Regions from separate parts of the Homo sapiens genome. Here region 1 is linked to region 2. The links come from fine-mapping of genetic effects on gene expression. A gene starts in region 2. The other region holds a variant in brackets. All regions are shown on one strand. Distances are between the middles of the regions.

What was found. PIP is the estimated chance that this variant, and not a neighbour inherited with it, causes the effect. A credible set is the group of variants that fine-mapping cannot tell apart.
Region 1: its variant is the best candidate, but not a certain one, in a credible set for the expression of RIT1 in iPS cells (iPSCORE, PIP 0.54).

What each region holds. Positions count from the first base shown.
Region 1 is chr1:155,951,209-155,956,728 of GRCh38, reverse strand. It overlaps ARHGEF2 (Rho/Rac guanine nucleotide exchange factor 2), which reads left to right. Exons shown (of 22, transcript NM_001162383.2): 14 at 1,760-1,827; 15 at 3,901-4,101; 16 at 4,494-4,613; 17 at 4,743-4,810; 18 at 4,953-4,988; 19 at 5,196-5,246; 20 at 5,457-5,520. It overlaps MIR6738 (microRNA 6738), which reads left to right and starts at 5,393; the gene lies at 5,393-5,456. The variant G/AAG (reference allele first, on the strand shown) is at 2,447.
Region 2 is chr1:155,908,611-155,913,610 of GRCh38, reverse strand. RIT1 (Ras like without CAAX 1) reads left to right here and starts at 2,262. Exons shown (of 6, transcript NM_006912.6): 1 at 2,262-2,368; 2 at 2,807-2,955; 3 at 3,105-3,161. The coding sequence starts at 2,850. It overlaps KHDC4 (KH domain containing 4, pre-mRNA splicing factor), which reads left to right. Exons shown (of 14, transcript NM_014949.4): 14 at 1-566.

The DNA.
Region 1 (5,520 bases), 43 kb before region 2:
GCCTCAGCCTCCCAAAGTCCTGGGATTACAGGCATGAGCCACTGCACCCAGCCAAATTTTTGTATTTTTAGTGGAGACGGGGTTTTGCCATGTTGACCAAGCTGGTCTCGAACTCCTGATCTCAGATTTATCCGCCCACCTCAGCCTCCAAAAGAGCTGAGATTACAGGCATTAGCCACCATGCCCAGCCAAGATTTTTATAATTTTTCTTTAGCTTTCAGGGAATCAGTTCTCAACTTTATAATTTGTAAACCTTTTTTTTTTTTTAACTTCTGCACCATGGAATTTTGAAAAGGTTTTTAGAAATGCATATAAAAGTATGAAATTGCAGGCCAGGCACAGTGGCTCACGCCTGTAATCCCGGCACTTTGAGAGGCTGAGGCGGGTAGATCACTTGAGGTCAGGAGTTCAAGACCAGCCCGGCCAATATGGTGAAACCTCGTCTCTACTAAAAATACAAAAATTAGCCGGGCGTGGTGGCATAAGCTTGTAATCCCAGTTACGCGGGAAGCTGAGGCAGGAGAATCGCTTGAACCCGGGGGTGGAGGTTGCAGTGAGTCAGGATTGTGCCACTGCACTCCAGCCTAGGTGACAGAGTGAGACTCCATCTCCAAAAAAAAATTATGAAATTGCCTATTCCAAGAAAGCAGTTCAAAATAACCTGTCCTGTTGACAGATCTGTAGTGGCTTCTTTATTAATAGTATTAATATTTATAATTGTGGCCAGGCGCTGTGGCTCACACCTGGAATCCCAGCACTTTGGGAGGCTGAGACAGGCGGACCACTGGAGTTCGAGACCAGCCTGGCCAACATGGCGAAACCCTGTCTCTACTAAAAATATAAAACTTAGCCAGGCATGGTGGTGCGTGCCTGTAGTCCCAGCTGCTTGGGAGACTGAGGCAGGAGAATCACCTGAACCTGGGAGGCAGAGGTTGCAGTGAGCCAAGATCCTGTCACTGGACTCCAGCCTGGGCGAAAGTGCAAGACTCTCTCTCAAAAAAAAAATTATAATTGTGGAAATTAATAATATTAATTGTAATTGATTTGTTGAGCTTCTGTTATGTTCAAAGCACTTTAACATTTCATTTAATCCTAATGAAAAACCTATGAGGAAGATATTACCTTCATTTTTCAAATGAGGAAATAGAGAGGTTACCACCTGGTAAACAGTGGAGCCAGGATTTGCATCCTGTTTGCTTGATGCCAAAGCCTGTACTTGACCCTCTGCACTGTGCTGCCTTTCCAAGCGACCTTTGGAGAGATATATCTCAGTAAACGCAGATAATCAGTGCTAAGAAATGGGAGAAGGTCGGCCGGGCGCGGTGGCTCATGCCTGTAATCCCAGCACTTTGGGAGGCGGAGGATCACCTGAGGTCAGGAGTTTGAGACCAGCCTGGCCAACGTGACGAAACCCCATGTCTACTAAAAATACAAAAATTAGCCAGGCATGGTGGTGCGTGCCTGTAATCCTAGCTACTCAGGAGGCTGAGACAAGTGAATCACTTGAACCCAGGAGGAGGTTGTAGTGAGCTGAGATAGCGCCCTTGCACTCCAGCCTGGGTGACAGAGTAAGACTCCGTCTCAAAAAAAAAAGAAAGAAAAGGGAGAAGGTCAGGACTAAATTAAAGCTAGGGTGTGAGGCTGAGGAGTCTTATCAGAAGATGGAAGCATAAGGCATGTTTGGGAAGGAGGGAAGGCTGATTCTGGTCTATAACCTAGCTTCTGTCTCTCAATGGCATGCGACCTGTTACCCCTCCAGATGCCCATCCAGGGAGGACTTCCCCCTGATTGAGACAGAGGATGAGGCTTACCTGCGGCGAATTAAGAGTAAGTCCACCCACAAGGAGCTCCTTAGTAATTTATAATACATTCACACAATGGAATATTATGCAACTGTTAAAAAGATGAGATGGCTCTATGAGGGCTGGTGTAGATCCACAACTGAAACATATTAAGTGAAAAAAGCAAGGTTTAAAACAATGTAAAGTGTATACTACCATGTGTGTAAAAATAATATGGAAGACCAAGGTTGGGTGAGTAACTTACTTTTTCACTGTAAGGCCTTATATTAGTTAGGGTATGATTTAACTGCTATACTAAAAGACCACAAAAATCTTCTTCCTTAAAAAAGGAAGTAGATTGGCCGGGCGCGGTGGCTCACGCCTGTAATCCCAGCACTTTGGGAGGCCGAGGTGGGCGGATCACGAGGTCAGGAGATTGAGACCATCCTGGCTAACACGGTGAAACCCCGTCTCTACTAAAAAATACAAAAAAAAAATTAGTCGGGGGTGGTGGCGGGTGCCTGTAGTCCCAGCTACTCAGGAGAGTGAGGTAGGAGAATGGCATGAACCTGGGAGGCGGAGCTTGCAGTGAGCTGAGATCACGCCACTGCACTCCAGCCTGGGCAACAGAGGGAGACTCCATCTCAAAAAAAAAAAAAAAAAAA[G/AAG]AAGTAGATTGGCTGGATGCAGTGGCTCACGCCTTTAATCCCAGAAGGATTTGGGAGACAGGAGGATCTCTTGAGGTCAGGAGTTCGAGACCAGTCTGGGCAACAAAACATACATAGCAAGACCCTGTCTCTACAAAAAATTAAAAAAAAAAAAATAGCTAGGCATGATGGTACACACCTGTAGTCCTGGCTACTCGGGAGGCTGAGGTGGGCGGATTGTTTGAGCCCAGGAGTTCAAGGCTGTAATACACTATAATTGCACCACTGCACTCCAGTCTGGGTAACAACAACAACAAAAAAAACCCCAACAAGGTAGAATATTATTGCTGTCAACATAACAGTTCAAAGTGGGAAGTGCAGAGTAGTGGTGCAGCTCTGCCATCTTTAACATGAAGTTTTCATCTCTATGTCATGTCTGAAGTGGCTACTCCAGCTCCCACTGTCACACCTGTATCACACCTAGCAAGGAGGAGTAAAGGAATAGAGTTTATACCCTTTTTTCTTTTTCTTTCTTTCTTTTTTTTTTTTTTTTTTTTGAGACAGGGTCTTGCTCTGTCGCCCAGGGTGGAGTGCAGTGGCGTGGCGTGATCTCGACTCACTGCAACCTCCATCTCCCACGTTCAAGTGATTCTCCTGCCTCAGCCTCCCAAGGAGCTGGGATTACAGGCATCCACCACCACTCCTGGCTAATTTTTGTATTTTTAGTAGAGATAGGGTTTCACCATGTTGGCCAGGCTGGTCTCGAACTCCTGGCCTCAAGTGATCCACCTGCCATGCCCAGCCTATACCCATTTCTTTTAAGAGCAGATCTGGAAGATGCTCATATCCATTGGCCAGAATGTAGTCATGTAGCAATATAGTCACGTGCAAGTCAGGCTGGAAAACATAGTTGTTAACTGGGCAGCCATGTGTGCCCAGATGAAACTTCTATGCATTTTCTCATTAAAGGAAGATGGAAAGAATGAACACTGTTGGACAACCTGCAACCCCTTCCACAAATCTTTTTTTTTTTTTTTTGAGACAGAGTCTTGCTGTGTCGCCCAGGCTGGAGTGCAGTGGTGTGATCTCGGCCTCACTGCAACCTCTGCCTCCTGGGTTCAAGCGATTCTTGTGCCTCAGCCTCCTGAGTAGCTGGGACTACAGGCGCGTGCCACCACACCTGGCTAATTTTTGTATTTTAAGTAGAGACAGGGTTTTGCCATGTTAGCCAGGCTGGTCTTGAACTCCTGGCCTCAAGCGATCCACCTGCCTTGGCCTCCCAAAGTGCTGGGATTACAGGTGTGAGCCACTACACCTGACCAACAGAAAGCTTTTTCTTTTTTATAAATGCCAAAATAACAAAATTAAGTCTGCCACACTGCCCCACCCTACCCCTCTCCCCTAGGGCTGTCCTCTACTGGCGCTCTTGCATACCCCTACGTCCTCTCATGTCCTCACTTGTTCCTTATCTGCAGTGGAGTTGCAGCAGAAGGACCGGGCACTGGTGGAGCTGCTGCGAGAGAAGGTCGGGCTGTTTGCTGAGATGACCCATTTCCAGGCCGAAGAGGATGGTGGCAGTGGGATGGCCCTGCCCACCCTGCCCAGGGGCCTTTTCCGCTCTGAGTCCCTTGAGTCCCCTCGTGGCGAGCGGCTGCTGCAGGATGCCATCCGTGAGGGTGAGGGAGCTCCCAGGGAAGAGTCCAGGCTCAAGCACTCACCGTCACAGAATGTGGACATGTGACTAGACATGGACAAACACAGACAAGTGGGATGCCAACCCTATAAACCATAAACGGCCCTGAGTGCCTCTTCTGGGCCAGTTCCTGGGAAAGGCAGGGGAGGAGGTGTGGTCCTTGCTGCTGCTCCATATCGTCCATGCTGCATGGACTCTGCTGCCTCGTAGGCATTTACTGCCCTTTACCTCATCAGTGGTTGTGTGAGTGAAACCCCACTGCCAGTGCAGGGGGCATTCCCCCAGATGCCCAAGTGTCCCACATGTGGGGGTGAATGGCATTCCCCTCAGGGTCCTGTGTCATTCCTGTTCTCACCTCTTCCTCTTTCCCCACAGTGGAGGGTCTGAAAGACCTGCTGGTGGGGCCAGGAGTGGAACTGCTCTTGACACCCCGAGAGCCAGCCCTGCCCTTGGAACCAGACAGCGGTGGTAACACGAGTCCTGGGGTCACTGCCAGTGAGTACCAGGGCAGGGGACCAAGGTAGTAGGTGGGAGGGGCCAAAGTTAGTAGAGTGGTACCAGGGATCAAGTGGTATCAGGGCCCCAGGGAAGTGAGCTCAGCCATCCTTTTCTCCTTCTCAACAGATGGTGAGGCCAGAACCTTCAATGGCTCCATTGAACTCTGCAGAGCTGACTCAGACTCTAGCCAGAGGGTAGGTCCTCAAGAGGTTCTGGGACTTGGCAAGAGGGTGGGAGAGGGACAGCCAGCCTCTGGATCCTCAACACAAAGCTGTCAGGGGCAGGCACCCAGGATTTGTGTGCCTGCTGACTCCCCATTCTTGCCCATTTCTGCAGGATCGAAATGGAAATCAGCTGAGATCACCGCAAGAGGTGAGATGGGAATTGATGGTATAGGAGACTGAAGGGAGGATGTTCTTAGTCTGAGTAGTTAGAGCCCAGTTTGGAGTGGGGTGGGGAAAGCGTCTACATTCAAGTATGTCTCCGGATCCTACTGTCCCCACACCCACCCTTGTTCAACTTTTGGGCAGTTCTCCCATCCTAAAGCTGGGGCCCTGTTCCCACCCTGTCTGTCCTCAGGAGGCGTTACAGCGATTGGTCAATCTCTATGGACTTCTACATGGCCTACAGGTCAGTAGGACAAGGGCTTGAATGGGGAAGGGGAGGAGCCAGGCTAGAGATGCCTGTTTAGGTGGGGCATGGTCATCCCAACAGGCCTTTCTAAATACCCTCCCAATCCAAGCTCTCCAGGAGCGATGATCTGGGCCTTGGAGGGTGAAGGCGAGGGGTAGAAGAGCACAGGGGTTCTGATAAACCCTTCTGCCTGCATTCTACTCCCAGGCAGCTGTGGCCCAGCAGGACACTCTGATGGAAGCCCGGTTCCCTGAGGGCCCTGAGCGGCGGG
Region 2 (5,000 bases):
TGTTTTGGAAAATGCTGTCTCATTTAAAACTGTTGGATATAGCTGGATCCTGGATAGGAAAATGAAATTATTTTTTCATTGTGTTTTTTAATTGGGGTGATCCAAAGCTGGCACCTTCAGGCACATTGGTCTCATAGCCATTACTGTTTTTATTGCCCTTCTAAGATCCTGTCTTCAGCTGGGTCAGAGAAAACTTCTTGACTAAAACTGGTCAGAACTCATCACAGAAATGAAATACAGTGGTCTCTCTCTCCCAGAACTGGTTGCAGCTAAAACAGAGAGATCTGACTGCTGGCTATAGGATTTTGGACTTAATGACTGAAATTGCAAATTGTCCTTTTTCTTGGCATTACAGATTTTGCCAAAATAACTTTTTGTATCAAATATTGATGTGTGAAAGTGAAGGAGCTAGTCTGCTGAACCAGGAATAGTTTGAGATATTGAACTGTCATTTTTGCACATTTGAATACTTTGCAGGCTGGCTTTGTATAAACTTATCCTCTGGTTTCCTATATGTTGTAAATATTTAGACCATAATTTCATTATAAATAAATCTATAAATATTCTGCTTGTGGTTTCTCTGTTTTCTTCCACAACCCATCCATACACTGAAATTCATAAACTTTTTTACTCATAGCACAATGCAACTATAACATTACCAGAAAAATACATATACAGACCCCAAGGTTTGCATATAGTTCCCAGAGTTATGTAACTGCAAAATGTACCCTTAAAGTTCAAATGAAAAGGTTAAGGATTATTATGCTGGATATTTTCCATTTTCATATTTTAGCCCTCCTTTATTTAACAGCGTATTAAAAGGACTTCATGAATGAAGCGGGTTTTAAAGGAAATATGTTATTCTTGGAAAGACATTTTATTTTTTTTTGAGATGGAGTCTCGCTCTGTCACCCAGGCTGGAGTGGAATGGTGCAATCCTGGCTCACCGCAACCTCCTGGGTTCAAGTGGTTCTCCAGCCTCAGCCTCCTGAGTAGCTGGGATTATAGGCACCTACCACCATGCCCAACTAATTTTTATATTTTTAGTAGAGACAGGGAGTCACCATTTTGGCCAGGCTGGTCTTGAACTCCTGATCCTCAAGTGATCAGCCCACTTCAGCCTCCCAAAGTCCTGGGATTACAGGCGTGAGCCAGCACTCCTGGCCAGAAAGACTTAAATTTTGAGACGGAGTTTTGCTCTGTTGCCAGGCTGGAGTGCAGTGGCACCCTCTCAGCCAGCTAACTGCAACCTCCACCTCCCAGGTTCAAGTGATTCTCCTGCCTCAGCCTCCCGAGTAGCTGGGACTTATAGGCGCATGCCACCACACCCAGCTAATTCTTTTGTATTTTTAGTAGAGACGGTTTTACATGTTGGCCAGGATGGTCTCTTATTTCTTGACCTCATGACTCACCTGCCTCGGCCTCCCAGAGTGCTGGGATTACAGGTGTGAGCCACCGCGCCCGCCCGGCCCAGAAAGACATTTAAAAAGAACAGTGGTAGGCAGAGCTGCATGAGAACAATTTTCGTGTCAGTTTCTTCTAGCACCTGTGCTACGTAAATAGAGGGGAATATGGTTATAGTGGCTGCGCTTCAGTTCTGTATTTAACTCAAGGCCTCTGTTAACTCAGAGCTCTCTTTCCTGCCAGAGTGTGGTACATTTATTTAAAACAAGTTTTTGTGTGTCTTATACGTGTTTAAAATACATACAGAACTCTGATTAGGGAGTGTTGTGAACATCTGGTTTCTGAGAATGAATTTAGGTTTCAATAGCAAAAGTCATTGTGGCCGCTCCTTTAGGAAAGTCATTTTTCTCCTATGAGTAGTCATCCCCGGTAGACTTGACTGAAATCCTGTGTTTTAGGAGGATTTGGGGGGTGCCCCTGTCCTCCCTTCCTCTCATTACATTGGGTCAAATTAGTTTTGGGTTTTTTTTTTTCCCACAAGCAGCAAACAACCCTCGGTAAGTTGTTAATTTAAGTGTCCCTGCATGTCTCTTATCACGTACTCCCTTCCCTTTTGTGTAAATAATTTACTTTCTACTCGTGATTAAATACCCTTGTCTGTGAGTGCATACACCCTAGGTTGGGTAGGTGACCAGAGGACCTTCAGCGGTGGGTCCCGGAACTGGGTTTTAGGGACCTGGGAGGGGCGGGAAGAGGGCGGGGCAGGCTGTGGGCGTCACTGAGTGGCCCCGCCCCTCCTTCCGCGACTCGGGCGCCGGTGGCGCCATCTTACTCGGTTGCGGGAGGGGTCACAGGTCAGTGCCGGAGCCTCCGCGAGTGAAGGAAGACGAAGTGCGTGACCCGACCGGCTGTGGTGTTCCAGTCCCCACTGACCAGTAGGAGCAGCAGGGCGTCGGCTTGTGAGGTAGAGGGGTGGGGAGTCTGGCGGCGGAGCAGCAGCTGGGGGTGGGGAGGGGGTTCGGAGGAGAATGGGGAGGGGGCGGAACCTCTGGGTACCGCAGACGTGAGAGAACCCCTGCGGCCTAAGGGGCCGCATCCCTTTCTTCCCAAAACTTTCTCCTTGTCCCTACTGTGCCGAGACGTAAATTTATTTGTATCTTTTTATTTTTCTCTTTGGAAAAAGTAAAACCTGTGATGTGTCATGTGACTGAACTGTCTAGGAGGGAGGGTGAAGATGGGGGGGTTTCTTAGGGCCACCCGAAAGGGTGCAGTGGTGAGCAAGAGGGACAGGCCAGAGTAAGAGGGACAGGCCAGAATATGTATGGAAAGGTAAGGCACTGGCTTGAGGGCTGTCGCCGTGGTGTCTCCATCCTGGATTAAGCATTTCCTCCTCCTTTTCTAGGTGGCTTTTCCTCGGGGCAACCGAGGAAGGCCCCAAGAGGACAATGGATTCTGGAACTCGCCCAGTTGGTAGCTGCTGTAGCAGCCCCGCTGGGCTCTCACGGGAGTACAAACTAGTGATGCTGGGTGCTGGTGGTGTAGGGAAGAGTGGTAGGTAACATTTTCCATTTGACAGGAAGCATGGATGAAAAGTACTTAAATGACCAGATGGGATACTTGCTATCTTGCAATGTTAATACTTAAAATTCTCTCTGTGGGTCACCTTTGTGAGGATTTGACTTTTATTTCTTCTTTTGAAGCCATGACCATGCAGTTCATCAGCCACCGATTCCCAGAAGATCATGATCCCACCATTGGTAAGCCAGATCATCACTTATGTTTCCAAATATACCCCATAAAAATATCTTAATGAATATCAGTAGTTTCTAACTATTTATATTTTGAGGCTTTTTTGGAGTCTAATTCAGATTTATTTAGAAACAAGGGTATCAGCAGTTGGTAAGCAACTGAATATTTCTTTTTTTTTCAGACTTTATGTCATAAGCCATCTTTAGTCTTTGTCTCTTACTGAACATTAATGGGACAACTCTCTTTGTTGTATTTTTTTATGGTTGTATACAGGCCACTTAACGAAGCCTTTTCTTGCTGTCACTTCTCTAAGGGTATGACTTGAGACTCGCTCTGTAACTGTGAGTCAGCTGGTTTGAACTTCCACAAAAGGAAGCAGAGAAACAAGTAGAGCCAGGCTGCTGAACTCTTACAACCCAGACATGCCAAGCCTGGACATCTTGCACTTGGAGCTCTTGGTTTACTTCCTTATACCTTAAGTTCATTACGTAGTAATGTCTTCTCCCATGTCTGTCTGTTGTTTTTTTTTTTTTTTTGAGATGGAGTCTCGCACTGTCTCCCAGGCTGGAGGGCAATGGTGCGATCTCCGGTCACTGTAACCTCCGCCTCCCGGGTTCAAGCAATTCTCCTGCCTCAGCCTCCTGAGTAGCTGGGATTACAGGCATCTGCCACCACACCCGGCTAATTTTTGTATTTTTAGTAGAGATGGGATTTCACTATGTTGGCCAGGCTGGTCTCAAACTCCTGACCTCAAGTAATCCATCCACCTCAGCCTCGAAAAGTACTGGGATTACAGGCGTGAGCCACTGTGCCTAGCCCTCCGATGTCTTTTATGGTCCTTAACTCTTGTTGCAGAACGCTAATAGAGTAAAAAAGTCATTTTGTTTGCTTTGACTTTTTTATTTTTTAATTGCTAATCTCTACAAAGACTAAGAACATTACTGTCATTCCTAAACCATAAGGAAGCAGGTTTGATTCTAAGGGTTTATATCCTAATATGAAAGAAAAATGGATGTGGGAATGGGAGAGGGCACAGAAAGTCAGCTGTACTGTTATTTTCTTTTTTTGTTTTTTTTTTTGGAGACGGTGTCTCACCCTGTTGCCCGGGCTGGAGTGCGGTGGCACAATCTCGGCTCACTACAAGCTCCACCTCCCAGGTTCATGCCATTCTCCTGCCTCAGCCTCCCGAGTATCTGGGACTACAGGCGCCCGCCACCAAGCCCGGCTAATTTTTTTTTGTATTTTTAGTAGAGATGGGATTTCACCGTGTTAGCCAGGATGGTCTCAATCTCCTGACCTCGTGATCTGCCCACCTCGGACTCCCAAAGTGCTGGGATTACAGGCGTGACCACTGCGCCGGGCCTTATTATTTTCAGTATGTGACACTCTTTGCCATGATCCTAGTTCTCTAGGAAGGATTTCCATTGGGTCAGGCCTCTGCTGCTCTGTTTCCCGCAAAGCCAATAATGTTTTGTGGTGGCCCAGCTTTGATATGGTCATTTCATAGAGCACATGATTCCAGGGATGGGAAAAATAGAAAAAGTCTTGACTTTTTCATGTACTATATCAAATTTAGAACACTGTTCAGAGATTCAGGCCAGGCGCGGTGGCTCATGCCTGTAATCCCAGCACTTTGAGAGGTCGAGGCGGGTGGAGCACCTGAGGTCAGGAGTTCGAGACCAGCCTGGCCAACATGGTGAAACCCCATCTCTACTAAAAATACCAAAACTAGCCGGGCGTGGTGCTGGGTGCCTGTAATCCCAGCTACTGCGGGGGCTGAGGCAGGAGAATTGCTTGAACCTGGGAGGCGGAGGTTGCAGTGAGCCGAGATAGTGCCATCACACTCC